7 linked regions of the Homo sapiens genome follow. The protein of the gene in region 7 interacts with the protein of the main gene of each other region in a biochemical or structural test. Each region holds a gene or a part of one and is shown on either strand. Other genes may lie near its edges.

Evidence for each region.
Region 1: the proteins of GRIP1 (region 7) and SLC17A1 interact in a test that uses a peptide from one of them, tested with the Homo sapiens proteins (one large-scale study listed by IntAct).
Region 2: the proteins of GRIP1 (region 7) and ARVCF interact in a test that uses a peptide from one of them, tested with the Homo sapiens proteins (one large-scale study listed by IntAct).
Region 3: the proteins of GRIP1 (region 7) and CRB2 interact in a test that uses a peptide from one of them, tested with the Homo sapiens proteins (one large-scale study listed by IntAct).
Region 4: the proteins of GRIP1 (region 7) and DGKZ interact in a test that uses a peptide from one of them, tested with the Homo sapiens proteins (one large-scale study listed by IntAct).
Region 5: the proteins of GRIP1 (region 7) and SLC22A11 interact in a test that uses a peptide from one of them, tested with the Homo sapiens proteins (one large-scale study listed by IntAct).
Region 6: the proteins of GRIP1 (region 7) and MPP2 interact in a test that uses a peptide from one of them, tested with the Homo sapiens proteins (one large-scale study listed by IntAct).

The regions. Positions count from the first base shown.
Region 1 is NC_000006.12:25,829,147-25,833,767, forward strand, and holds the start of SLC17A1 (sodium-dependent phosphate transport protein 1), read right to left. Parts: upstream 2,907-4,621; 5' UTR 2,848-2,906; intron 1,462-2,847; 5' UTR 1,412-1,461; coding exon 1,378-1,411; intron 1-1,377. UniProt on the Homo sapiens protein: Important for the resorption of phosphate by the kidney. May be involved in actively transporting phosphate into cells via Na(+) cotransport in the renal brush border membrane. Plays a role in urate transport in the kidney.
Region 2 is NC_000022.11:19,978,775-19,982,613, reverse strand, and holds part of ARVCF (splicing regulator ARVCF), read left to right. Parts: intron 1-522; coding exon 523-681; intron 682-876; coding exon 877-1,403; intron 1,404-2,371; coding exon 2,372-2,871; intron 2,872-2,921; exon of another isoform or gene 2,922-3,222; intron 3,223-3,533; coding exon 3,534-3,717; intron 3,718-3,839. UniProt on the Homo sapiens protein: Contributes to the regulation of alternative splicing of pre-mRNAs.
Region 3 is NC_000009.12:123,354,688-123,359,055, forward strand, and holds the start of CRB2 (protein crumbs homolog 2 precursor), read left to right. Parts: upstream 1-1,509; 5' UTR 1,510-1,573; coding exon 1,574-1,667; intron 1,668-4,368. UniProt on the Homo sapiens protein: Apical polarity protein that plays a central role during the epithelial-to-mesenchymal transition (EMT) at gastrulation, when newly specified mesodermal cells move inside the embryo.
Region 4 is NC_000011.10:46,350,278-46,354,116, forward strand, and holds part of DGKZ (diacylglycerol kinase zeta), read left to right. Parts: intron 1-3,839. UniProt on the Homo sapiens protein: Diacylglycerol kinase that converts diacylglycerol/DAG into phosphatidic acid/phosphatidate/PA and regulates the respective levels of these two bioactive lipids.
Region 5 is NC_000011.10:64,558,731-64,562,569, reverse strand, and holds part of SLC22A11 (solute carrier family 22 member 11), read right to left. Parts: intron 3,436-3,839; coding exon 3,332-3,435; intron 567-3,331; coding exon 412-566; intron 304-411; coding exon 135-303; intron 1-134. UniProt on the Homo sapiens protein: Antiporter that mediates the transport of conjugated steroids and other specific organic anions at the basal membrane of syncytiotrophoblast and at the apical membrane of proximal tubule epithelial cells, in exchange for anionic compounds.
Region 6 is NC_000017.11:43,897,400-43,901,238, reverse strand, and holds part of MPP2 (MAGUK p55 subfamily member 2), read left to right. Parts: intron 1-614; exon of another isoform or gene 615-686; coding exon of another isoform or gene 687-768; intron 769-2,858; coding exon 2,859-2,977; intron 2,978-3,839. UniProt on the Homo sapiens protein: Postsynaptic MAGUK scaffold protein that links CADM1 cell adhesion molecules to core components of the postsynaptic density. In CA1 pyramidal neurons, required for synaptic KCNN2-containing channel function and long-term potentiation expression.
Region 7 is NC_000012.12:66,672,243-66,676,081, forward strand, and holds part of GRIP1 (glutamate receptor-interacting protein 1), read right to left. Parts: intron 1-3,839. UniProt on the Homo sapiens protein: May play a role as a localized scaffold for the assembly of a multiprotein signaling complex and as mediator of the trafficking of its binding partners at specific subcellular location in neurons.

The sequences.
Region 1 (4,621 bases), on a different chromosome or scaffold from region 7:
TGGACTTTTGATCTTGGGATTTTTGGCCTTCCATGATATGGGGACAACAGGAATCAAATACCAAGGTCCTAGCGATGCGATAGTGTATAGTAGGAGACCCTCTCCTAAAATGCTTGGATGTCAAAGATTTACATGGTTCAATGGAGGATGAACACATTGCCCCCTTATCTTGTCAGTGGACTGCCAAGAAATTTTGTGCCATATGAACTTAAGAGCTGAATAGAAGGGGGTAAAAGAATACCCCTGAGAAATTTAATCATCAGCCAGCCCTTCCTTTGATTTGCTGCCTAAACTCAGTATCATAGGGAAGTGAATGGATCTAGAAAGCTATCAGAAACTTTGTAAACACACCTGCAGGAGTCTCTACATGGTAAAAGGGAAGTCATTGTCACCATGTCAGAGAAGGGCTCATTGTCTTAGTCATTTAGGGGTATGCTTTTGAGTTTTACTCATTTCTCTCCTCCACATTGCTCCAGGAAGTCCATGAATTATGTCTAAACAAGTTTTAAGTTAAAAAGAAGACCACAGGGGGAATTCTAAAGTGTTTGGGATTGAGTAATAAGAATACCGCATATCAAACTCATGGACAGAGTAAAATGTGCATCTGTAAATATATTTATCAAAAAAGAAAGAATTTAAACACTTGGAAACTGAGCAAAGGAACAAACCCAAAAAGTCTAAAAGGAATTAAATGCATAAGGGCAGAAATGAATAATATATAGAAAAAAACATATATATATAAACTTTGAATGCAGATTAAATGGACAACTTAAACAATCAAAATAATTAAGTATCAAAGTTGATACAAGAAGAAATACATAATTTAATATACAGTAACTTTTTCATAAGTTGAAAAAGTATACAATCTATCGCTCATCTCCTTTTCTGGGATTTTGTCCCCTATGACATTGACACAACGCTAAACCAATAGCAGTAATCCTTTATTGTCATTACACTACCCTGCCTAAAATAAACAGCTTCTCTCAAAAAATATTCAGTACACATTCAGCTGTTGATGTCCAAGAATGCAGGGACTCAAGAACATTCATCCTGCCTTACTTCCACTTACAGATCTATCTCTCTTTCTCTTGGAGATGGAACCAAAATAGCCCAGTTTTTTCTGATATTTTCCACTAAATGATAAACTGACAAGTGCGCAAAAATGAAAATAAAGTGTAAGCCACCAGAGTATGTAGAATCTTTTTATTTAGGGCTTTTCTGGTGGAAAACCATAGTAGGACTGGTTTCTTCTACCTTCTTTTCTGAACATTTTTAAGACCCCATATGTATATCACAAAAATATTCTTCCACATGGAATCTGTGATGTAATATTTAAGAAAAAGAACACCTGTTTAATGGAACAGAATAAAGTGCTACCTTTTTTGGGAGGCAACCGGTTATCCATTTGCATACACGGCTGAAGTTGCTTCTCTTCTTGCTGAAGGGTTTTGCCTCCACCCACTGTGAGTGCAAAACACGTTGATGTCAGCATAATGTAGAGAGGCAACTGACCAAACACTACCCAGTACTCCTCTCTGATTTAAAACCGCTTCCAAGGATAACTTGCTCCATCACAGCAGTGCCCATTCACCTCCATTATGTGCTTCCCTTGATATTTATTTTACTTTTGTGATTGTTTTGGTTGATTAAAAATATATGGAAGACCTGAAAACTACAGAGAACAAACAAATAACCCTGCCAATCCAGAATTCTAAATCCGTGATAATATTCCTCCAAAGTGAGAAATGGAAAGAATTCATTGCCAGTAGACCTGCCCTGTAAGGAACACTAAAAGAAGCCTTTCAGGCAGAAGGAGATTGCTATAGGTCAGAAACTCGGCAGTATGAAAAGAAAGGAAGAATGTCAGAAAAGGAGTAAGCAAAGGTAAAACAAATTCCTTTTTTCCCCCTGTATCTTAATAGAGCTGGAAGATACTATCTGCTTATTGATAAGATCAACTCAAGCAGAGGCTAATCATTCGTTACACGTCCACATGCCCCTGTCCGTATCTTCAGTTTCCGTGGATAGAGCAGCCACTGATGCAAAGCTTTATGGCAGGAAGCTCAGTGGAGAATCAGAATGGAGCAGTCTCCTATCAGGCAACCCCTTACCATCAGAATTCAGCACCAATATGTGCTGGTCAGGTTAGACCTCAGGATTTTACCATATCAGATTATATGATACCTAGTGCCCCAAAGATACCAAAGTCCTGAGATTGGATTTGCAAAATATTTTTGAATAAGCAATTTGTCAACCATCATTATCACACATTGGAACCTCTTCTGGGGCTGCTGTTTATTTCAATACATATATACATACACACCAAATGCACACACAAACCACCCATACGTATGCACCACATACATACATACAACATAAACACATGGTACAAACTCCCCTTATGTTCTCCACACATACACTCCAGACACATAGCAAACCAAACATATAAATACGTTACAATACTGCATCCTCAAAACGGAAGTACAAACTACAAACACCACACACATAACCACACACACACATAAATGATGGGCACAGATGCACCAGGCGTACACAGTGTGCCACACACATTACAGACACAGCACACCACAGCTATACAAGCATCACACACTGTACAACACATACTTCTCTTTCCTTGTGTCCCTGTGAACCTCACACTGATTGCTAAAAATATGTTCTTTTTTCTCTTGTGAAAAGCCTCAGAAGATAGGGCATATTCCACCCCTCCCCACATTTTCCCCTATTGCTAAGTACTTTCAATAATATCTTTGCCAGGGAATGCCCCCTTACGGCCCTCTGGGGAATCAACTGATTGCTCATTTCATTTAATGAGCCCCGTAGACTAACCTGATTCGGGACAAAAAAGTGATTTCTTCTTCCGCTGTGAAGACTTTTCTCTCAACTTTACACAATATTGACTTTCTAGGATTACCAAGTTTAGCCCCATAAATCATTCACCAAATCTTTTGACATCACTGTGTCGAAGTTAAAAGCTTAATTTTTAACTTTACTGTTACCTTTTCCTTAAAGCTTCAGGGAAGGTGTGTGGGTCAAAATCATCCAGTGGACCAGAAACTGGGAATCTGCCAGTAATTTCATGGCATAATAAGCAGACACCCTTAGTCTCTCTCCCTGCCCAGGAGGTAGAGCTTGCCTGCCATAAGTGCTCTCAAGATTTCTCTATTAAGGATGGCTCTGAGTATACAATGCTGTTCTCACAGGAATGTTGTGGCTTTCTAAATGCCCCATAAATGCCATATTAAATTTTTACTCTTAATTCCCTTCCTTCCTTTCTTCCTCCTTTTCTTCCTTTTTTCTTTCTTTCTTCCTTCTCTTTCCCTTCTTCCTTCTCCCTCCTTCCTTGCTTTCCCTCCTTCCCTCACCCTGTCTCCTCCACACTCCTCTCTAAACAGTACATCTGTTTGACATTCAGCATACTCAGAAAGAGGTACATTTTATTGAGGCATGTCCTCTGGAAGGTGTGGCTTCTCTCATGGCTCTTCCTGCAATTACTGTAGGTTCTGGTTCATCCACTTGGTTATAGCAATATCCAGAAACATTAAAAAAAAAACATAGAGAGACAGGATCTCACACTGTCACCCAGGCTGGAGTGCTATGGTGCAATTATAGCTCAGTGCAGACTTGAACTCCTGAGCTCAAGGGATCCTTCCACTTCAGCCCCAAGTAGCTGGGATTACAGGTATGCAACACTGTACCCAGCTAATTGGTAGAGACAGGGTCTTGCTGTGTTGCCCAGGTTGATATCAAACTTCCTGCCACAAGCAATCCTTGTGCCTTGGCCTCCCAAGTGTTGGAATGACAGGCGTGAGCCGTCGTGCCTGGCCCCTAATACTTTTAACTTAGAACTCTTTGAAGGTAATCTACTAATTACTTAAAAATATCCAAGCACTAAAATCAGTGATTTTGCATTATAGGTAATTTATTTCATGCTTAACAAGTTTTTTTTTAATTTTTATCATGCTTTTAAAGTGCTCATTAAATGTTTGGCACATAGCAGATGCTCTGTAAATTCAACCAGTTATTTTTTTCCTCTAAAGAAATGTTGTAAATCTTTAACCCCTTTGCCCAGGAGACTTTGATGTTGTTATTCAGTTAGATTTTTTCTTTTTCAAAAGTCCAGATTCTGCTGGTCCTCTTCTGTGTGTTGCAGAATGTTTGTACTGTCCTGTTTCATGCTGGGCAATTTCTGGCATTTTCTGAAAGAGGAGCCCTTTTAGTGATTGAAACCCCTAGGTCAGCAGTTGTTCAAAGTCCATGTGTTAAATAATAACACTCCCATCTGCCATCAGTATCCCAGTTCTGGATACTGATTACCTGAAGGAGAACCATCTTTCTGTTTGCTGGCCCCAAAGCTTTCTGCTGCTCTGTGAGATTCTTTGAAATTGTTTCTTTTGGATTCTGTGTTTTATGTATTAAATTTTTAAATTTATCATTTTATTATGGAAATGTTTAAGCATACAAAAAAGTAGATCAGTTTAAGATAACTGTGTACATATTCACCCACTTCAATAATTATCAATATTTGGCCATTTGAGTTTTCATTTGGCCTTTTGAATGTTATCAACAACATTCAATGGTTGTTTTTTGTAGCATTTTAAAG
Region 2 (3,839 bases), on a different chromosome or scaffold from region 7:
GGCAGTGCTGAAACAGCCCCCACAAGGCTTCTATACTCAAGGTGTCTGGGGCAGGTGAGGGAGGAGGCCCCAGGACACCATGATGTCCCAGCTAGGGGTGGTGGTTGACATCAGGAAGGCATGCTGCAGGTCTCACTGGCACCTCCTGGGGCCTGGAGGAGCCTGTGGCAGCCAGGCCATGCAGCTTGGGGAGGGCCCTGAAGACTTCACCCCCCAGGGTCTATGTCCTTATCTGCCAACTCAGCCTGAGGAGACCTGAGATGGGGGTCCAGCCCCAGGGTCCCCCCAGGATGGGGTGCCGGGGCAGGGTTAGCACCTCGATGTTCAGAGGGCAAGAACTTATTGCTGTCCTTGTCAGCTTGGGCCGAAACAGGCCTTGGGGTGGGTGGGTTCAGGACCAGGAGGAAGGCACCCTGGTGTGCTGGCCAGCATGAGCTGAGGCAGAGCTGCTGTGTGTGGAGACCTGCACTCCAGGGGTGACTGAGCAGCAGGCCTGCCCACCAATGTCCCTCCTTGCCCCAGGAGCAGAGCCCAGGCAGCCAGGCCTCACTGGCCACGATGCCGGAGGCACCTGATGTGCTGGAGGAGACCGTGACGGTGGAGGAGGACCCCGGCACACCCACTTCCCATGTGTCTATTGTCACATCCGAAGATGGCACAACCCGGCGCACCGAGACCAAGGTATGGCCAGGCCCAGGCAGTGGGTGGGTGAGCAGGGCCAGGCTGCTGCAGCTGTCCCACCTGCAGAGTGGACATGGAAGCTTGCCACGTGGGGCCTCTCATTGCTCGAGTGGGAAATTAAGGCCAGCCAGACCCCAGCAAAGCAGTTTCTAGGCCTCTCGTGCTACCCCACCTACCTGCCTATCCATCCACCAGGTCACCAAGACTGTCAAGACGGTGACCACTCGGACAGTACGCCAGGTGCCCGTGGGCCCAGATGGACTCCCCCTGCTGGATGGCGGCCCCCCACTAGGCCCTTTTGCAGATGGTGCCCTGGACCGGCATTTCCTGCTGCGTGGTGGTGGCCCAGTGGCCACACTCTCTCGAGCCTACCTCAGCAGTGGGGGTGGCTTTCCCGAAGGCCCCGAGCCCCGGGACAGCCCCAGCTATGGCAGCCTGTCCCGAGGGCTGGGCATGCGGCCCCCACGTGCTGGCCCCCTTGGCCCAGGCCCTGGTGATGGCTGCTTCACACTGCCTGGCCACCGGGAAGCCTTCCCGGTGGGTCCTGAGCCTGGGCCACCAGGTGGCCGCTCCCTGCCCGAGCGCTTCCAGGCAGAGCCGTATGGCTTGGAGGATGACACGCGCAGCCTGGCCGCTGATGACGAGGGTGGCCCTGAGCTGGAGCCTGACTATGGCACGGCCACAAGGAGGAGGCCTGAGTGTGGGCGGGGCCTTCATACCAGGTGAGCTGCACCCCGTCCCCTGTGGCTACCTCCTCTGGGAAGTCTGCCCTCCACCCCCCAACTACAGAGTGCCCCACTTGTCAAGTGGCGCAGTTGAGTTAGTCATGCATGTTAGTTTGAATTGGCCTTGGCTCTCGTCAGGGACAGAAGAAAGGTGGACCCTGGGGTGGTAGGAGTTCGGCTGGGCACTGTCCTGCAGGCCCAGGGCCCAGGAAAGCTGGGAAGAGTGCCGGCCACTGGCCTTGCTCCAGCCACACTCTGGGTAACCAGAACCCAGAGCCCTGGCCCTTGTCACAGCCCCTGGTTCTGTCCCCATTGCCCTCAGTTTCTGCATCTCTGGAGTGGGGATGTGACCACAGCCCGGGTCAGGATTTTGTTGTGTGACCCTGGCCAAGTCACCTGACCGTCACTCCTAGCCTCAGGGCAGGCGGTTTGATGACAGCAACCCACAGGGCTACTGAGAGCTAAGGAGATCTTGTGCCCCAAGGGGCTGGTGGCCTGAATACTCCTCAGGTGGTCCTACTGGGATGGCTTCATGCGGAGAGGGCCATTTACTCCCCCTACATCCTGGCACAGCCAGAGATGGGCCTCATGGAAGATGGGGTGGTTTTGTGGAAGGGAGGTGAGACGGTCTCTCCAGCAGCCATAGCAGATGTCTCACAGAAACTTGTTTTGCTCGGGATTGGGAAACTGCCCGGTGACAGCAGTGAGTGAGTTTGCTGTCCTGGGAGGGTTGCCTGGGTCCTGGTAGCCGCTGGCTGGGGTTTGGCATTTGGCTCTGAATTGGTTCTCACTGGGCTGGTGCATGACTCTCTGTGTCCCCACCATGCTCCGGGCCAAGATACAGGTGCTCTCAGCCCAGCGCTGCTGGGTGAGTTTGCAGTCCTGAAGAAGGTGTGATGGGGCAGCTCAGAGGCAGGGCTGGCGGCTGCTGTGACGATGTCCACGCGCCCCACTTGCCTGTGCAGGGCCTACGAGGACACAGCAGATGATGGCGGCGAGCTGGCGGACGAGCGGCCTGCGTTCCCAATGGTGACGGCGCCCCTGGCCCAGCCTGAACGGGGCAGCATGGGCAGCCTGGACCGGCTGGTGCGGCGCTCGCCCTCAGTGGATAGCGCCCGCAAGGAGCCGCGCTGGCGGGACCCTGAGCTGCCTGAGGTGCTGGCCATGCTGCGGCACCCCGTGGACCCCGTGAAGGCCAATGCGGCCGCCTACCTGCAGCATCTGTGCTTTGAGAACGAGGGTGTCAAGCGGCGTGTACGGCAGTTGCGGGGGCTGCCGCTGCTTGTGGCACTGCTGGACCACCCGCGGGCTGAGGTGCGGCGCCGGGCCTGTGGGGCACTGCGCAACCTCTCCTATGGCCGCGACACTGACAACAAGGCCGCCATCCGGGACTGCGGTGGTGTGCCTGCCCTGGTGCGCCTGCTGAGGGCTGCCCGGGACAACGAGGTCCGTGAGCTTGTCACTGGTGAGTGGGACCTGGCCATGCTCACATCCCCTGGGAAGAGAAGAGTGTGAGGCTCAACCCGGGAGGAACGAGGCCACTCGGCCTGCGACCGCCTGGGAAAGCACCCGGTAGGCAGGAGTGCAGCTGCTGAGACGCTTGCCCCAGGAGCCAGGCATCAGGCCCAGACACTGTGACAGGTTCCCCAGTCTCTACCATAGCAGGGAGGCTGACGCTGCGCCCCTCGGGCATGTCCCCTCACCTCCTGCCTTCACACCTCCTGCCCCCACAGAAACTCTCCTGGGACCCACCTCCTTGGTTCCCACCCCAACCGTGCAGTGGTGGGGCTTGTGCCTTGTGAGAGCTGAGGGACAGGTAGGGTCACCGTGTCTCTGTGAGGCCCTGTGGCCTCAGGAGTGTTAGTGCCACCTGCCACATGGCAGGGAATGGGTGGGACGGGACAGCACTGCCACACCCTCCTCTGCACCTCCTCCCCTTTGGGGCTCCTTCCTAGCTGGAAACCAGTACTGGGTGTCCCCCGGAACCACTCACGGCTTTTGTTACTTCCTACTGTTCTGCATGAGCTGGGACATGAGGAGAGTGGGACAGGTCCTGAGCGTGGCCACCTGGGGAGGTAGGCAGGCGGTGCATATGGTCAGCACAGATTGGCCAATCGCACCCCACAGGCACCCTGTGGAACCTGTCATCCTATGAGCCCCTGAAGATGGTCATCATTGACCATGGCCTGCAGACGCTGACCCACGAGGTGATCGTGCCCCACTCAGGATGGGAGCGTGAGCCCAACGAGGACTCCAAGCCACGGGACGCCGAGTGGACAACTGTCTTCAAGAACACGTCGGGCTGCCTGAGGTGTGGACCAGACCTGGTGCTAAAGCCCACATGCACACCAGGCCCCGTCCTCGTGGTCCCAGATAGTGTGGAAGATGGCGGCGAGCTTAGGAGCGCCAGAGCTTAGGAGCTTCAGAGCTGTG
Region 3 (4,368 bases), on a different chromosome or scaffold from region 7:
GAGAGAGGTTAGTGTCCCAGAAACCAAGGGGCAATCCCTGCCCTGGAGAGAACAGGCCTCAAGGGCAGGGATGGGGCAGGGGCAGTGGATAAGGAGTCTACCCAGGCCTTTTTGGGTTCCCTCCTTTGGTCCCTGGGGACCCAGGGCTGTGGCACTTGCCCCGGGCTAGAGGGTCGGCCAGGGCCTGTGTGGTGCCCACTGCTCCCTCCCCTGCACTGCAGGGGACCCTTGCCCATCCCTCTAGCTCATCTGGACCTCCCTCAATGGCTCCTGCTGTCTTTCCAGGCTGTGTCCTCCCGTGTCAGGGACACATCCCAGAGCCCAGGGCCTGCGTGGGCTGTATCCACGGTTACTGAATAGGGACAAACAGGCATGTATTGGCAGGGGCCGGTGGCTCATTTCAGGAAAGTCCCTTCAGCAAGAGGATTCTCTCCCCACTGGGGCTGAGGGTGGTAGAAGAAAGGAATGTTGTTCTATGTTGTAGTGTCTCTGAGATGACCTGGCTTCCTGAACCAGGTCCCCCTGAAGAGCTCCTCCTGTCCACCCCAACAAGAGGCCAGCTGGAGAGCAAGCAAACATCGAGTGCAGCAGGAGACTATAAGGTTAGACAACAAGAAGGACTTCCTGGCAGGGGAGAGCAATGCTTGCTTGGTTAGAGCTGCCTTTCAGTAGAATGGGCTGCTTTGGATTGCAGTGAGGTCGCTGGAGTTGCAAACAGCAGAGCCAGAGATCAAGGTCAAGTGGAAGAAAGCTGGGAAAGGTTCAGTTTGGCTGGTGAAGGGTGGAGAGGGTAAAGGGAGGCAGGGACCACCGTGGTGCAGGGGTGAGGTGCCCTGCAGGGAGCTGATCCTGAGGCCGATGGTGGGAGGAGCTGTGTGTGGTCGGGTGGGACGGGGTGGGGACAGCAGGAGACACTGAGAAGGTGGCATGGCCAGGAGCTAGGGGCTGACCGAGTGTGGGGAGGGGGGAGTGGGGAGGGGGCGTTGGGCTGCCCGATGGGAGGTGCCTTGGCTCCGATGGGAGCACTGGGGAGCAGCAGGTGGGGGGACGAGCTGGGTGGGAGGGGCTGCAGCTTCCCAGCAGAGACAGGGTCTGGGAGGCGACTGGACTCGAAGGCCTGGGCTTGGGAGAGAGGCCCGGGCTGGAGAGGTGGGGAGGGGGATCCAGGAGAGGGGATAACTAAGGACTTGGGAGTAGCTGGCATCACCTGGTGAGACGAGAGTCCTGAACAGCCCCCTCTCCAAGGACAGAAATTTCTCCAAGGAGGCTGACCTGAGAGGTGGGAGGAGAGTGGGGCAGAGGGTCAGGAGGGAGAAACCAGTGGGTGCCAAGACCAGGTCAGCCCCACAGGCTAGGGGGCTTGAGGACTTGGGGCTGATGTCTAGGGACGTCCACGAGGTGGAGCAGCCCAGGAGGCCTGGGTGGGAGGAGGAGGCGGTGGCGGGGAGGGGAGGGAGGGGCTGGGCCTCTGTCCACAGCATTAGTGCTGGTTGGAGGGACGAGGGGGGTGCGGAGCCAGCCAGGCCGCCCTCCCGTTCTCACAGCAGCCGAGCAGAGCGCAGAGCGGGCTGCCATGGCGCTGGCCAGGCCTGGGACCCCGGACCCCCAGGCCCTGGCCTCTGTCCTGCTACTGCTGCTCTGGGCCCCTGCCCTTTCCCTCCTGGCTGGTGAGTTGGGGCCCATGTCTGGAGGGGCCTGGGAGAGGGTCTGTCCCCCAAGACAGATACCCCAAGCCTTGGCTGCTGGGGTGGTGGGTGGGCTGGTCCGCGTGGGTGCAGGCCTGAGCTGTGGGGTGCACAGGAGTGCGCGGCTGTGGCCCCCAGACTCTGTGGGGCTCCACGGAGGTGAGTGTGTTCTGAGGCTCGGGGCTGTTTCATGTTGAGGGGGGTTGTAAGTTTCGGGGTTGGGGGATCGGGGGCTGGGCATGATTTGGGGGAGCTGATGCGGGTGAGGGATGGGGTGCGTGTTTTGGGAGGTGCTGTGTTGCATCCTGTAAAGGGCTGGGGGACTTCTGGGTTTCTAGGGGCTGAGTTTGGGGAGTTGCAGGTGGCATAAGCCTCACCCCAGAGCTTGTTCTGTGTCGCATGCTGGGTTGTGGGGCACAGGTTGTGGGTGTGTTAGAGTTGGGAGGTGGATGAGCTGTCTGGGGTGAGCCGTGAGTTGTGTCCGAGGAGTTGGGTGTGGTGAGCTGTGTCCTAGCACACGCTGTGGGGTGTAGGTTGTCCAGGGTTGAACTAGGTCTTTGCTCTCAACATGAGGGGTGTGGGATGTGCACAGCCGACCCCAACTCGGGACTGAGTGGAGAAGCGTGAGGGAGACTCAGGGAGCTGGGTGCCTGCCCGCACCCCTCCATTTGTGCGGTAGCCCTGCCTGTGCTGAGGGCTGCTGGGGATGCTCTGGGTCCCTGTGGGGTGGCTGGGGATTTGGGAACATGTGTGTGTCCCCTGCTGCCCCCTCCCCAGCATTCCAAGGCCAATCTGAAAGGGCTCCCTGAAGCCAGACCACATTTGCCAAGCCCTTTTTGCTTTTGTCCAAGCTCTCGGAGCCTGGAATTCCTCCTGGGGGGTCCAAGGGAACGCTTGGTGTTAGTTACTATAGTTACAGGGGCCGGGCCTGGGAAGTCCCCTGCCCCCACCACCACAGGCTGGGGAGGGAGCCAAGGAGGGCCTGGGCTCTCCTGAGGCTGGGGGAGCCCTCCCTGCCCCAGAGCTCCACAGGCTGTAGGGTGTGGGGGCCAAGTGTCTCCCAGTCCCACCTGGGGACCCTCATGTTTCCCGCACTCACAAAGCTTTCATTTCCTATCCTCTCTATGGGGCCCTAGGGAGGATGAGGACCCCATTTTGCAGTGAAGGAAACCAAGGCTCAGAGAGGGACGGGGACTTATGAGCTGGGCTCTGCTGGCAGGCGACTTGGGCTCCATAGAGGGGTGGGGCATGGTGGCGGGGGGCGGGGTGGCTGCTCCTCTCTGTTCTCTGCATACAAAGCACGTGAGATCCCGGTCTGTGGATCGGTGCTCTGTCCCCTGCCCTGTGATGCTCACACACCCACACTCCGCACACCTGTGTGGCATGCCCAAGGGCACACAGCACCACAGGGACAGGTGCTACAGACACATGTGGATCTACCAGCACATGCACCTACCTACACACATGGCATGTGCCTGCACACCAATGTGCACACCCCAACACGCACATGTGGACATGTGTGCATTCACACTCAGTGTGCACTCACAGGGGACCTGGAGGCACAGAGTGGATGGAGGCTGTGGGGGGTCTGGACACTGGTGTGTACACTCAACCCATCAGGCCTGCTGGGTTGCCCAGGGGCAGCCTTTCCTCTGCCATTTCTGTGCTGGGAGCGCCATCCCTGGGGATCCCTAAAAGTTGGTGGGGTACACTGCAGGCATGACCATTTCTGCATGCTGGTACCCTAGACTGCCTGCCGGGAGGGGAGGGATTGGGGATTTTGTCACTTGAAAACCAATTTCCATCCTGGAGGGGATGGGGGCTTCTGGAGGCCATGGGCCCCTGGCTTTTCTCCCCACCCCTGCCAGGCCCTGAGCTGGGCCTCTCCATCCTGGGCCCAATTTGCCACAAAGGCCCGGCTGGTTGCCATGGAGAGGACCAAGCATCTTGGAGTACAATGGGGCACGTTGGGCTCTCATATCCACCCTCCCTTCCCCAAACACCCAGGGAGCCCAGCAGACAAAGGGGCAGTGAGTCCAGGCCCCAAGTCCGGCCCCTCCTCCAGCCAGAAGGGGGTGGGGGCCTGCAGGACAGAAGCAGAGATGGAGCAGAAAGCCACACACATTCAACCCAATGTCAGGATCCTTTGGACAGTGGGTGTCTGCCTCAAGTAAAGAATTGTTAATGAGTAAGATCAGCCACTCCATGGCAGGCACTGTGCTATTATTAACGAGGTCTAATTTAATTCTCCCAACAGCCTATGAAGTCAGCTCTGATACCCCTAGTTTACAGAGGAGGTAAACGAGGCCCAGAGATGGCCAGTCCCAGAGCCAGGAAGCCCCAGAGCCAGTGCTGGGATTTCACAGTACACTGTGCTACTTGCCTAGGCAAAGTCACGTCTCTTCTCTGTCTCTACAAAACGAGGACAGACTGGCTTACTCCGAGCGCTGGTATAAGGATTGGAAGAGAATGCAGTGAGCGGTTCCCCACCCCAGGTTTTGGCATGGAACCCCCAATTTCAAGGGAAATTTTAGATGGAAGCCCATGAATAGTTAATAGTAAAATTGTTAAAAGTGGCCTGTTTGGGTGGCAGGTGGGGAACCCCACCTGCTCTGTCTCCCCCTCACTTCAGGAGGTAACTCCCTGGAACTGTGCTCTGAGCCCAAACTCTCAAGGGTTGGTC
Region 4 (3,839 bases), on a different chromosome or scaffold from region 7:
GCAGACATGTGGAAGGGTGGAATAGTACACCTGCTCTGGGTTCTGCCCCCTCCAATGCTGCTTGGCTGGTCCTGCTACCTTTGTTTGTTTGTTGCAGCCTCAGGTAAAAGTCCTCGAAGCCCCAGCTGAAACCAGCCCTTCATCTTATCCCAGCTCCATGCTAGCTCTTAACCTAGCTCTTGCTTCTCCCCAGTCATCCACCCCATGTCCCCCATCCCGCCCCCTCCCCACCCCACCCACATACACACATCCAGCCTTGGGGTTGAGGGGCCCGACGGGAAGATCAAGGGTAACAACTAGGTTGGCAGTGGCTGCTGAAGCCAGGTGGAGAATTCTGCATGCGGGCCCTGGCTCATGGGGAGAGTTCCATGAACAATTAGCAGTGTCTGCTGTGGGCTTGGCAGGGGGTCTTGATGGCACATGGGCCACATGTTTGCCATCCTGGCCCCTCTGGGTAGGACAGTCTCTGAATGGCAGCCCCTGTGGGGCTGAAAGAGGCTTTTCCTTAAAGTCCATCTCTGCCCCACACAACTGGCGTCATCCTCTCAGAATCGGGGGGTGGCAGCTTGCCATCTCCCTTTTTTTTTTTTTTTAGCTCAGTGAGCCATGATTCTCCCCAGCTTGTGGATTCCTCCCACCCCAACTGCATCCCACCTTACTTCTTGCCGGAACTATCAGTCTCCTCCCTGAGGAGGAGGAGGAGGAGAGGAGGTACAGGCCCCTACTCTGATCCCAGGGTATTTAGTTTTCCTCTACCCTGAGCAGAGGGCAGGCAGGACCTTTCCATTTAAGCTTCTGTTGACCCTAAGGATTGGGCAGCCAGGAGTGGGAGAGAAGTGGACTCTCTCTCCTCCTCCAGGACCCACCGGGAAGGAGGACCCGCTTATCCTCTGGCCTGGTCTCAGCAGCCTGATCCTGGCAGGTCACAGGGCTTCTGGATTAGCTGGTTTTACACCCCAGGGGCATCAGAAATTACCTGGCACCTCACACATGTAGACATAAGGAGCCTTGGCCTCAGAGCCCCTAGGAGCCTGAGCGTCTGTGCCGCCATCCCCTGCCCTTCACGGTGCTCAAAGTCACAAGCTCCCAGAGGGCAGGAGGCACACCTGCAGAACCAGTGTGAGACAATGGGTCCCATTTAGAGGCACTGCCACACGGCCCCAGCGAGCATGGCCCTGAAGTCAGGGCTGCAGAGGGTGCCCAGCGGGTGCCTGAGCAGAAGCAGCCCCTGTTTGAGTTGGTTCTGCAATGAATAGGGAGGGACGTGTTGAGGGACGCCTCTTTTGCAGAGGTGAGAACCCTGTCTATGGTGCCAGGGTGTCTGGGAGCGAAAGGAAACCTCTTTGAGTGGTTTGTCTCACCTGGGCTAATGCTGGGAGCAGCCCAGGTTGCTGTGAGAGGCAGGGACAACCTAGAATCCTTGGGTTCCAGCAAGTTTGGGAAAGAAAAATGGGCCTCAGTGGCCGAGCTGCGTTCATCTCACTGTGTTTGCTCCCCACACAAGGTCAGGTGCCAGAGTATACAGCTGGCCCCTGCTGGGAACCCAGTGTAGAATTCTCACAGTCTCCCTCTGTGCCAAACGCTGTCAGGGGAGGGAATGACAATTCTTGTCATTTTGTCTCCATGCCATACTCCAAAAAGGTCAGATCCTGGGATGTGGAGCTGCCCAGGATTCTCGGTTGGCACAGGAGCTTGAGAGTTGGTGTCCCCTCAGGCAAGGACAGAGGAAGGACTAAGTGACCCCTGGTGAGAGAAAGCTGAGGCTCCAGGCAGCTGGGCTGGGGGAGAGTGAGAGAAACGGGCCTGCCCTCCTCGGCTCCCTGGAGGCCTCTCCAGAATTCGCCAGTGGCCCCCCCGGGGCAGAGGTGAAAGTGGAGTCATAGGTTAGCCCTGAGTCTTAGGCCGCGCGGGCCCCTCGGAGAAGCAGGGATCCGGAGCCCTTCCACCCACTTTAAGGCAGGAGAGAATTGGGAGGTGTGGAAGCAGCCCCTGGAGGCTGCCCTGCAGTGCCTCTGGAGCGACACAAGGGGGCGACAGCTGCCGTTGTGGGAGGCCGGTGGGCGAGGAGCTTCTCCTTCCGCCAGTCCACAGGCCCACGGGGACCCACAGGCACTCGCTGGAAGTTACCTGCAGCTCTAGCTGCCGGGCGGAGCCAATCAGTGCGGCCCAGGGCAGGCTGGGTGGGTGCCTCTAGCCTCCTGGCCCCACCCCTCCCGTCCCCTGAGGCCCAGGCCCAGCCAGGTGGCCTTGACTCAGCCAAGTTCTCGCAGCTAGCCGGGGTCATCTGGGACTCCCGCGCTGGGCTTCCAGGGCCATGTTCATTAAGGCCTCATCACAGGACCCAGGACAGGCTGACCACCTCTCCTCCCTGCCCCCTCTGCCTCCTCCTTGAACAGCCCTCTAAGTCAGCTGCGGGGGCAGTGTGTGCAGGAAGCGGGATCTGCCACACCTGCGGCCAGGTTCTTCCGCTCCCCGAGTTCCTGGGCCACCCCTGAGCGGTGCCAGGCACTCATTCCTTGCTCTTCTTGGCTCTCCTCTGTTCCGTGTCGGGGTCAGCCCCACATCCAGCCTGCAGTGTGGGTTTCAGCACAGGACTTGGCTGGCACTTGGGTCACAGGTGTGGAGGGTAGGCCAAAACTAACCAAATGCCCTGGAAGAGCTATCATTCTGCCATCTTTCCTCTTCACCCCCTGCCTCGCTGAAACACCAGAGACGTGGTTAGGTCGGGAAAGCAGGTTCGAGTGAGACCAAGGGCTCTGTGGCCGCGGAGGGGAGGGAGAGGCTGAAGAGACAGGAGTGGCGTTCCAGCTCCTCTGTCTTTGGTGATTAACAGCTGCCAGAAGCTTGTAAATTCATCAGTTTCATGTGATCTTCATAACATCTTTGTAGTTGGTTTGATTCCCATTTTGCAGATAAGAAAACCAAGGCTCAGAAAGGTCAGGGGCCTGGCCAGGATCCCCCAGCTCACACTGGAGCCCAGCCCAATGATCTTCTCATGACATTGGGCCACTCTACTTAGGAGTACTCTTTTCTTCTATTATTTGCCATCCCTAAACTGGGAAGACCTAAGAAGAGGTTTGAGTGCTCCATGGGGTTTAGTGAAAGGTCTTTGCCTCCGGTGCCAACGGTGTGAGACCCATGAGATAATCTGACCTGGACCCCCAAGGGAGAATGGCCACCAAGATCCCTCAAGTCAGGGGAGCAGGCTGGACTGGGAGAGACCCTTGGTAAAGAGACTGGGGCTGTGAGCCCGTCATCATGTGGCGTCCGGGCTGGGTCTGGCGTGGAGGACAAGTCTGATCTTTTTCCTTGCTTTAAGGGCGCAGGGAGTCTAAAGCCCAATGGACATGCTCAGAGGAGCCCCCATACCACCCAGGGGTCGGTGGCTGGTCTGGGGCAGGGAAGATCGCTTCACTCGTACCCAGTGCCTCATGGTGAGAGGTCTGAGAGGAGAGGGAGGGCCCCAGCATCCTCCTCATCTACACTGAGACCTCCTCCCCTTGCTCCTGGCAGAGCATCAGTTCAGAGCTCCCACGTAGAGGCCTCTCCCCTGCCAGGGATGAGCCCATCTCAGCACATGCCAAAATAGCTGTCTGGGAGCCTGGGCCCGCACCGCCCACACCCCAGCATCTCGCGGGTTAACAGCTTGCCTGTCTCTCCGCCCCCTTCCCCAGCTTGCTGACATTTTACAGAGAGAGGCGGGGGCGGTTGTGAAAGGGGGCAAGCTGGTTCTTGCTCCCCAACCCACACGGACACCCCACTGACACAGCCTGCCACCACCCACCCACCTCTGGAAGGCATCCCCTTGGGGGAGACCTTCCTTCCATCCTGAGGGCCCT
Region 5 (3,839 bases), on a different chromosome or scaffold from region 7:
GAGGGTGCCGCTCATGCCATGGCCCTTCTGTGGCACTCCAGGTCTCTGGACCTACTGCCAGCCAGAGAGGTGAAAGTGAAGAGTCCCCCTCCCACCCTGGGTCTCCTAAGGAAAAGGTCCCACATCATACTGACCAGGATATCAGGGAGATGGCAAAGAAGGGCACTGATGCTGCCAGCTGGAGAGTCCTCCAGTCCCGCAGGGCAAAGGCCAGGCCGCCCAGCGCCGCCTGGCCTGCGCTGAAGGCACATCCCACCACCGTCATGGTGACCGCCCTCCTGCTGGTCGTGGTCCACTCCACCACTGAAGGATGCAGACACGTGCAGGTGAGGCCTCATGCGGCGGCCTGAGCCCCATTCTCTCCTGCCACCCCCGCCCCCATGGCAGGAGCGCGCTGAGCCGGGGACTCACTCAGTGTCAGTGAACTCAGAAAGATGCCGGCCATCCCAAAAGCGGCCACGAACCGCAGGCCGCAGTAGATGACGAATGTTGGGGCGAAGATGGTGCTGGTGCCCGCCACGGCCAACTGCAGGCAGCACCAGCTCAGCATCGGCTTCCTCCCAAACCTGTCACAGGAGAGAAGCACACGGGGCCTGGAGAGGGGCCCCTGAGGACGTGGATATGTGGGCAGGTACTTGCCTTCTGGGAGTTCAACAACGCCAGGGGATCTCTTGCAGCCAGCTCCTCCTTCTTGGAACTTTTAGGGGTACACTCAGAGTGCTTCTGTTATAAAAGTGGCAGGTACCTTGCCATGGGAGGGTGCAGTTCAGTTTCAGTGTTTAAGAACATGGGGTTTGGGGCCAGGCACGGTGGTTCATGCCTGTAATCCCAGCACTTTGGGAGACTGAGGCTGGAGGATCACTTTAGGCCAGGAGTTCAAGACCAGCCTGGGCAACATAGTGAGACCTCAGTCTCTACTAAATAAATAAATAAATAAATAAATAAATAAATAAATAAATAAATAAATTAGCCAGGTGTCTGCGGTCCCAGCTACTTGGGAGGCTGAGGTGGGAGGATGGCTTGAGCCCAGGAGTTCAAGGCTGCAGTGAGGTATGATCACGCCTCTGCACTGCAGGCTGTTCAACAGAATGAGCCTCTGTCTCTAATAAATAAATAAAAAAGAACACAGGTTTGGGCATCAGATGCCTGGGTTTGAGCCCCAGCTCTGTCCTTCCTGGGTGACCCTGGGCATGTGATTCGACATCTCTGAGCCTCAGTTTCCCCATCTGTAACACAAGGGCATCCATAAGGACATGCCTCACAGGGCTGCTATGAGAATCAAGACACTGGGCAAGGGGCCAGGGAGTAAGGAGGCCGAGACTTTGCAATCCACTGCTCTCACCTGTGCGCTGTGAAGGGGGTGCTCATGGGGCGGATGCAGAGCCCTCGGCCCCTGCCCGAGTGCCCTGGGCTGCGGTGGCCTCCAGGCCGGCTGAGTCTGAACCGGAGATTGCATTTAGTGCCACTCAAGCCCGTTCTGCTCAGAACGGAGATGCGAGGCAGACCTTGGCCGCACCTGTCTGAGCAGCACCCAGGAGCAAGGACACTCGCTTCATCCTCACGACAACTGCGTGGGCAGGTGCGAGACCCCACTGCTGGGGGGAAACTGAGGCCCAGAGAAGGGAAGAGATCTCCAGAGAAGGGAAGAGATCTACCTTGTAGGACAAGGCTGGGTGGGATAAGGCTGGGATTCAGACCCAGGTAGTCAGACCCCAGAGCCAGTAGGGTGGTGGCAGGAGGGAGTGGGAAGGCAGTCCTCCATTCATGAAATAATGACTGCGTGTCTGCCACCGTGCTGAGCTGGGCTCTGGAGCACAGTCCCTGGGTCCCTGTGTGCTTGTGGGGACGTGGACAACAAACAAGCCTTGAGCCAGCCAGGCATCGTCAGAGCCAGGCACTGTGATGAGGGAAGCAAGGAGGGGCTGGGACAGTCATGCCTGGGGCCGGGCAGGAGTCTCTGGCTCCGTGGCCTCGGAGGGCCTCCTCAAGGAAGAGCATTGAGTTGCGGCCTGCGTGTGGGCACAAAGCAGCATAGGCAAGAGCTTCTGGGTGAAGCACAGTCACTGAGGCGCTCTGCAGGCGTGCAGGGGGCCCCAGGAGGAGGCTGGTGGAGCTGGGGGTGGATGGAAGCCCAGCGCAGGGCAGGGGGTAGGCAGGAAGGGACTGTCCTCAGTGCAGTGGGGCCCTCGGAGGACTTTGGGCCAGCTTTTATTGACCAGATCAACCTCCGAGATTTTGCAAAGTCACTCAGTGCTGTGGCAGCGTGGACGGCCACTGCAGAGGACACCTGCGAGGGGTTGCAGCCTGCCTGGTGAGAGGAGATGGTGGCTCAGGCAAGGGGATGCTGTGGCAGAGAGGGGCTTGGGCTGAGTGTGTCCTGGAGGAAGAGCCAGGTGAGTGTGGGGGTGAGGAAGGGAGGCCAGGGGACAGCGCAGGCGCAGAAGGGTCCCACAGGTTGGGGGTCTGTGTCCTCCGATGGAGGCTGCTGGGGGAGTGAGGGGGCGTGGCAAGGAATCAGCAGCTCAGCTCCCAGAACAGGAAGAGAGGCAGGAGGGGGAGCGGGAGGAGGGGGAGCAAGAACAGCTTCCTGGGAGGTGGAAGGAAAACCAGGAGTGAGGATGTTCTGGAAGCCAAGAGAAGAAAGTGTGTCACAGAGAACGCTTCTCCCCGCCAGCAGGCCTAGGCTTCAGTGTCACCTGGTACGAGACGTTTCCAGTCCTGCCGGCTGGCCCTGGCGTGCCCATCACCTGTGCCCTGTTCCCCTAACCGGCCTCACGTTCCAAGGTGGCCTGACTTACTTACCTGTGTCCTGAGCCCTGCTTGGCTCCAAGCTGGGGAAGAGCAGACACTTGTCTCCCACCCTCCCCACCGCCCCTTCCCCCATTTCTGCTGAGGCATCCCTTGCACCTGGCTAGTGTTTGGCCCACGTGAGGCTTCTGGAAAGGCCTTGAGACTGGGGGACAAAGGACAGAGGAGAGGAGGATGGGGAGCCAGGACAACTTTGAGGCACAGGGTCCAAGCACGGCCGCATGGAGGAGGCCTATGACCATCTGGCAGGAGTATGGGAGAGGAAATGGGGGCGGTGGGGGATGGCCTGGGGTGGCCTCCCTGTGAGGGGAACCAGGCCAGGGTCTGGGGGGCCTTGCTGAGATGGGGACCCGGAACAGCCTGTGGGTTGGTTCGGATGGCCAGGGGAGGGAAGAAACAGAGGAGGCAGGAGGGAGACGGAAGCAGGGATGGGGTGTTTGCCTGACATTTCTGAACCTTCTGCCCCATAGTCTTCAACAATGTTTTGAGGGAGCTGGGGGCTGGGAGGAGCGGAGGCACTCACCGGTAGGAGAGGAGGCCCCAGATAAAGGAGCCCACCAGGATCCCGGACATGAAGATGGACTGGCTTAGGGGCTTCAAGCCCTGGGAGCTGCACACCAGGTCCCACTGCAAGAGGAGGGTGCAGTGGCTCAGCTCGGGGGGTATGAAATCACAGGGCTGGGCACGGCCGAGGAACGCCTGACCCACACTGGGGTCCCTGGACTCCCAGTGCCAGGTCACAGAGGTAGAGAGGACCTGCTGGCCATGGGGCTGCAACTCCCCATGGGAAGCTCAGCTGCAGGACAGAATGTGACCTGGCTCTGCGTCTGCCAGCTGTGTGGAGGCCACTCCACGGGGTCCAGTGGCCCCCCTCATGCAGAGGACAGACTCTGACAGGCAGCAGGGCCTTGAAGGGGCAGAAGTGGTAGAAAAATGAACAATTTCTTGGTAAAAAGAACTTTGGCAGGCAATGTGTGGCTGTGTCTGGCAGTACCTGGCAGTGGTGGGCTGTGAGGTGGCAGGCAAGGTGG
Region 6 (3,839 bases), on a different chromosome or scaffold from region 7:
CCCCCACGTACCCTGCCTCCCAGTGGCTGACCAAGGGTGGGTAGGGGGAGGCGTCTGAGGCTTGAGGTATTTGCCCCATGCCCAAGTGAGGCTGCCTCCCGGTGGAGGGCTGAGTCGTTCTTGGGGACTTCCTTAGACTGAGGGACTATTGTAAAGGAAACAGGGCCTGGAGAGGGGACTGAGAGCAGAGGTCAGAGGGCATAGGGAGGAGGTGGCATGGGGTGTATTAGAGGAGGGGCTTCTAGAAAAGAGGGTACAGGGACAAGATGGGCCAAGACTTTTCTCCCTCGGGTCTCCTGAAGCTGGCTGTGAGGGGAGGGTCTCGGAGTACCGCGCCAGTCTTGAAGGGGCAGCATGCCTACCCCCTCCTCAAAACTTCCTGTTAGCCGCCTCCTCCCCATCCCCACCGACACTGACATGCTGGGGATCGGGCAATCTGTGGGACTAGGGCTCCCTCCCACCACTCTTCTCCCACCCGGGTTACCGCCTGCTCTGCACCGCGCAGCGCCAGTCAGGGCTTTAGCCAATCAGCAAGGCGGTCACGGCGGCTGAGCCTTCCCATTGGCTGGTTCCTCAGAGGGCGCTCCTCGACTCCCGCCTTCCCCAGCCCGGCCAGGCTTTGGCTGGGGAGGCGGTAGACGGCGGCGTGTAGGACGCTCCGGGAGTCCCCGGGTCTGGGGGCCGCCATGGCAGGCAGCCCAGGCAGCGGGGTCTCCTTGGAGGGTATATCCCTGGAGTCTTCTGAGGAAGCGGAGCTCCAGAGGGAAGGTAGGGAAGGGCGGGCCAGATGGGGGCGGGGCAGCTGGCCCCTTAGCCTACCTTCCTCCAGCAGAGTCGGGGCATCTGGGGAGGGTGGCCTGGGAGAGGTCATCTGAGGGCACCTTCAGGAGAGCTGTCCTGGGCAGAGGGCACCAACTCCCTTGGCTCAGTCCTCCCCTAGATAACGGAGGGAATCTGGCATACCCTGGCAGGAAGGGAAGGGTCCCTGCCCTGGCCTCTTTCAGAGCCCACTGAGGGCCTCGCAGGTCTCTGACCAATGCCAAGCCCCGGCCTGGGCAAGAGGGGTCTGAAGGGCAAGCTTGCACTTTTTTTTCTGGAGAAGGCAGGGAGCAGGAGGAGGAAGGAGATGGGAGTCCAGGAGTCCCTGAACCATCTCTGCCAGCTCCAGTTCCAGTGCCCCCTCCTCCCCACTCCTGTTCCTTCCTGGAGGAGGGGGGCACTGACAAGAGCATTGAGAGGCGCCAGGGGTGCATCCTCCGCCGTCCTCCGTGGCTTGGGTACTGTTATGCAGATGTAGGCATGGGCGGCATGGTGGCAGAGTAATGATACCCTTCGCCCATCTCTGCCCCCAGCTGGGCACATTCTGCTTCTCGCTTCCTTTCCCCGGAACTTGCCACAGCCTGGAACTCCCACCTCTGTCAGTGAGTGAAGGCAGCCCTCACCTCAGGTCTCGGGGGCATTGTTGCGGCCCAGCTGCAGGTGTTATCGTGTCCTCCATTATGTCCCATTTCGGGCTGAGAGTTTGCTTATCCCTGTGATGACTTGGTGTGACCTCAGCCTTTGGGTCACACCAAGGCCTCCAGTGCCTGTTTCCCTAGCTCCTGCCAGCGTTCCAGGCCTCAGCTTTGACTTCCTATCATCCATGTTAATTTCTCAGTGATTATAGATCATTGTCACTCAGAGCTGAAGGCCTGTAAACATCATCTAGCCCAATCCATCCATTTTACAGGCAGGAAAGACTGAGGCCAGTGAGGGACAGTGACTTGTACAATGTCACACTGAATTAGTGGTGCTTAGACTGGAGGCTGCAGGCCCTGGCTCCTGTGTGGCTGCCTGCTTGACTCTGGGCCTGTACTCACGGACTTGCTCCGAGTACTGTCTGTCTCATCCTTGAGCCTGCCAGGTACAGGTGGCTGAGCCCTGGGCTTCAGCCCATCTAGAGGTTGAGTGAGGAGCTTGTGGTTTTCTTTTCTTTTTCTTTTTTTTTTTTTTGAGACGGAGTCTTGCTCTGTCGCCCAGGATGGAGGGCAATGGCAGGATCTCAGCTTACTGCAACCTCCGCCTCCTGGGTTCAAGCGATTTTCCTGCCTCAGCCTCCCGAGTAGCTGGGATTACAGGCGCCTGCCACTACGCCCAGCTAATTTTTTGTATTTTTAGTAGAGACAGGGTTTCCCTGTGTTGGCCAGGCTGGTCTTGAACTCTTGACCTCAGGCAATCCACCCGCTTCGGCCTCCCAAAGTGCTGGGATTACAGGCGTGAGCCACCGCGCCCGGCCAGAGACAGTCTTGCTCTGCCACCCAGGCTGGAGTGCAGTGGCGTGATCTCAGCTCACTGCAATCTCTGCCTCACAGGTTCAAGCAGTTCTCCTGCCTCAGCCTCCTGAGTAGCTAGAATTACAGACCTACACCACTATGCCTGGCTAATTTTGGTATTTTTAGTAGAGATGGGGTTTTGCCTTGTTGCCCAGGCTGGTCTTGAACTCCTGGCCTCAAGTGATCCACCCAACAGCTTGTGGTTTTCTGGTGCAGGGCAGGATCTGCAACCTGACACCTGCTTCCCTTTCTCCCTTCTCTCCACCTCAGAGTCTCTTCCAGCTGCCTGGAGCCTCCCACCTGCTCAGGCTGGCATTACCTAGGGTGGAGAGAACAGGCCAAGGAAATTGTCCCCTTCCTCCAGGATCCCTGTCCCAGGCATTCAAGGGCCTGGGGTGCCTGTGCTGGGCAGGGAGGGGAATGTTGCCGGGGAGGGGCTGCCTTCTGTGGGACATGGGGGTGGGGAAGTGGCAAGTATTGTGGTGTGTTTTGGTCTTCTGTACCCAGCTGGTACCTGTGTATCTCACTGCCCGTACCTTCCCCCAGCCATGCAGCAAGTCCTGGACAACTTGGGATCCCTCCCCAGTGCCACGGGGGCTGCAGAGCTGGACCTGATCTTCCTTCGAGGCATTATGGAAAGTCCCATAGTAAGATCCCTGGCCAAGGTACAGTGCTCCAGGGAGGTGGGCACAAGGGCACTGTGCTTGGGGAGGCACAGTAGGGGATGGGGTATTAGCTACAGAGGGCTTTGGGAATGGGACATGTGGCACAAGAGGCCCCCCTGAAGGGGATTGTAGAAGAAAATCATGCCCAGGTGATGACCTGAGTGGCTGCAGGTAGAGGGGGCTGCCCCCACACCTGTCTGGTGAGTGCGTGGGTGGATGTTTGTTGACTGCCAGCTTGTGGAGTGTGTGATTGGTGCGGGCTAGCATGCACATGTTGGAGAATCTCTAGAATTCATCTTGCCTGTCCTTCTGCCTTTGGGCGTTTTGTGTGTATGTCTTTCTAAGGTCACCTGCCATGTATCAGGTTGGGGAGAGATTGACTAAAAGAGAAAATTATAGGACAATTTGGTAATGACAGTGATAGAGGTGGATACACTATGCATTTTGGGAGCATAAAGGACAGGTGTCTAACCCAGCCTGGGGTGGGTGAGGAGGGCTTCCTGGAGGAAGGACCACTTGAGCTGAGTGGAAGAATGAGGAAGAGGGGGAGGGCATTCTGGGCCACAGAAGAGCTTGAGCAGAAGCACAGAGGTAAGAAAGAGTCAGGAGTGTGCAGGGGATTGGAAGGGCTGGTGTGAGGCTGAGCCTCAAGTGTAAGACAATGCGAGCTGTGCAAAGGTTGGCAGGTCTGGAGGGCACTGGGGGCTGTATGTGGGTGCTTGGGCATCCTTCTGTGAGTATCAGGGAGGCTTTATGGTTTTTTTTGTTTTGTTTTGTTTTGAGAAGGAGTTTTGCTCTTGTTGCCCAGGCTGGAGTGCAATGGCGTGATCTTGGCTCACTGCAACCTCCACCTCCTGAGTTC
Region 7 (3,839 bases):
ACAAATGTAACTTATTGTATTCTTCATATATTCAGCTATTTAATAATGTAGTTGGAATTATTAGTAAGAAGCTCTTTCTCACTTTCTAATACCCCGAGCTTTGCCTGAATTTAGGTGGTCATCATTGACTGAGACATCCAAGACCACTGCTTTTATTGCTTTTTGTAATGGCAAGGTCAAAGTTTCCTTGGTTTGAAGGGTGCAGTAACATCCTTTAAGGAGCTACATGTAATAAATATCTGGGTGCATTTTTTTTTTGGATATATGCGATACTGAAACAAATAATTATTTTAAAAATCTGCAAATAAGATTTTCTTCTGTATATTTAATAAAGCAGCAGTTACTAATTTTAAATTTAACATAATTCTCATGTATATGGGCAAAAAAGTGGTAAGAAACTAAAAGAGAGAAAAAGATGAGTTTCAAACACTGACGGCTTGCCTATCCCTAGAAACTATGTATTTTGCCTCCTCTCAAATAGTGGGAAGTTATCAAATTATATATTTTCCGCCAGAATAAAGTGAATTTACTAATATAAGAATTTCAAATAAATCAACTGTAGTAGAAAATTAAATCATTTTGTTATAGCTAACATGAGTATAAAACAGTTTTCACAAGTAATTTTTAATTTACAGATTAAGAAACTGAAATTTAGTGGGGGAAATTCAGTTTTTTTGTTTGTTTGTTTTTGCCACACAAGTAAAAATAGGAAAGCTAGGAAAGGTTGACATATCTTCTAATTTCTAAGTCTATTCTATTTCCCCTACCATAAGGAATGCTGAGAGATTAGTGTGGTGTTGTCTTGATTAATTTCTCTTTATTATTCTAGATAGGCAGGTCTATGGTTTCTATCCGTTTCTAGAAGAGAAAAAAAATGGCAAAAATGAAACACTGGGGTTCCTCCTGTCCTCCACTTGTGATCTTAGGAATGATTCTTAACTTCTCTGAACCTCTTCTTTTTCATCTGTATGGTGGGGATAATGACGATAATATTGCAAGATTTAAATGAGTTAGTACATGTAAAATGTTTAGAATAGTACCTGGCAGAAAGTAAGTGCTCAATAAATGTTAGCTATCCTTATTTCCATTCTTCCTCCTAAACATTTCCCAAAAGTATATAAGTTAATCGATTAGAATGCCTATCCTACATTGGCCCTCCTTTTCCCAGTAATGAACCAGATATTTCTTCCTAACCTGCTACAATCATATAAGAAGGGTGTAGACTCCTTCTTGTTTATATGGGGTCATACAAGGCATAGCCAAAATTTCCTCTGGAGGATGGGTACCTCCTGGAACGAGGTAAAGTATTTCTAGCATCCAATTCCCATTTGGAAGACAGGGGAGAAATAAATGCGCCATTATGATAATTCTAACTAGTTATATAAACGAAAAGCTTCAGTCCAGTGGAGAGTAAAGCGGTCCAAGCCACTGTTCAATGTAAACTCCCTCAAAGCATGGGCTAGAAGCACAGCAAGAAATCCATCACAATCTGGACCACGAGCAGCACTTGCGCGAGAACAAGACCTGCCTGGGACCCAGCTGCAGCATTCTCCTGTTCAAGTGGGGTCTCTCTATTTGCAAGAGAAATATGCCCCATGCCCTAGCAATAGATGAAACTCCAATAAAACAAGACAGACTTACTTTGTGAAATATCTATTAAGTGCATATTATTTTAAAAAGTTGATAGGCTAGAAAGATAAATACGTTAAATGCACTAGCTTTGATGGCATGAAATGAAGGGGTGGAGGCAAAGCAGAAAGGACATGGTTGCAGGTGAGATTTGGAAAGGGGTGGAAAGTTAACGAGGTGGAGGATACAGTTAAGTTGTTCCAGATGGCAGGATCTGACAGAGAAGGCCAGCGAGGGTTAGCAGAATGGATGAGGATGGGGAGACAGGAGAAATGAGGTCCAGCACAGAGAGAGAGAGCATTCTCAACCCAGATGATGATCAGTTCTGAATCATATCACAGAGTGGATGAGGAATCATTAGAGAAGACTGCTGAAGGAACCACAAGGCTAGACACAGACAGATGGGAAAGAGCAAAGTGACCAGAACAGAAAATCCAAGGCCACCAGCAAAGGAGCCATCAGGTTTGGAACACTGATACTGAACTCTGTGATGGATTCAGAATTCCTTGGATTAAAAGATTCTGCAGATGAGAAAAGATGGGAAATATTTTTCCTCTTCCATTAAGACAAAACATTTAAATGTGTTTCTTTAATTAAGATTACACTTAGGAAATGAGTTTCTAAATAGAAGAACTTTTAAACACAGGATGAGTGTCAGAGTTTAAAGGGATTTAGACGTCACCTGAGTAATCCATTAAAAGTTTATCAGACAAACTGTGAGATTGTTCTTGTCAGAGAGAATTGAGAATAAGATTACTGGTTGTCTGAGATGGTTGAGTTTCAGTTCTCTCTGGAAACAAGTCCTAGACGAATGTCTGACCTTCCCTTTCAAGCATAATGATTCCATGATTGGGGTAAGTGTAAGGAACAATGACTGAAAAAATGAGAGTGAGTGTGATCACAACCCAGCCTTTTAATCTTGCTCAGTGCCAGTGGAGAGAGCAATACCCATACATGCCCAGACAGCAGAAAAGGAGAAAAGATACTGAGGTTGGGAGGAGAAATCAGGAAGAAGAGAGGGAGAGAGAAAGAAAGTAGAATGCACAGCAGGGAGCAGTTCCCTGCCAGCCACAGATGTCTCACTTAGACACCCCATTGGGATGAAGGTCAACGGGGCTGCTTATAGTTTGTTAGTGGGAAAGGGACAGGGAGAGTTAATTCTATTTTAGGCCATATGTGTATTTGGGAAGAGAGAGAAAGTGAAGATAAGTAGAAAATAAAATGACACGTAGGCCAGCTATGATGAAAAATGTTGAAGTCTATACTAAAGTGAAGGCAAAGGTTTCCGACATGAGCTTTGAGCCAGTAGAGAAAAGACAGAGAGAGAGGGTGGGTGGCAGCAAAACAATGAAAGGTGCCCAGAGCCGTGCTCCCTGTGGAATGTCAGTAAATATTAATTGGCTGATGTTGGCATTGGTAGGCAGAGTGAAGCTTGTGAAAGAAAAATGCCATTGCCAGTGGAGCACGAAAGTTCAGATCTCGGAGCTCAAAATGGCAGCACCTGAGCAAGCAGCAGAGTCACATCCCATATCACCAGAGAAAGTGATTCTCTGCATATGAGGCCAAACTGTCTCAAGGAAAAGTAATCACACAATCATGACAAGAGAAAAAGAACAAAGTCTGTGGGAGCCATGAAAATATCTCCCCTTCTCTGAGAACATACTCCCTTCCCCTGAGGTATGGTAGCCCCTAGCTGAGAAACCAGGGCTGTCCCAGGTAAACAGCTGTGAAGGTAGGTGCCAAGAAGCCTAGATTTACCCACTCCAGAAAACCCTTTTGTCAGATGTCTCTGGAAACCTCACAAAATGTTATTTTGGGATTTGGCTCTAAGGTTGGGTAATTGGTAGACTCTCATTCTGGAGGAAGAAAAGAACGGCATTGCTTCTTTAGATTTCAATATTAGATGGGAAACGGAATGCTTTTGACGGTGCTTGGTGTTTTCATGAACCAAAGTTCCTCTCATAATGGCAGGCATGGGCCTTTTGGGTAAAGGTTATTTTCTTGCTCTTGTTCTACATTGGTAGGTACCTGATAAGGCAAAATGATTGAAACAGTGGCTTGAAACATTAATAAGAAAATGACTCAATTCCCAAGTCAGAGAAGTGCTAAGTTTACCTGAAATATATTCTACTATAATACTGTGGATCAGTGTCTATGTGGAGTGATCCAAGGACTTGTCTAGAAATACATGTTTTATACATCTTTTAAAA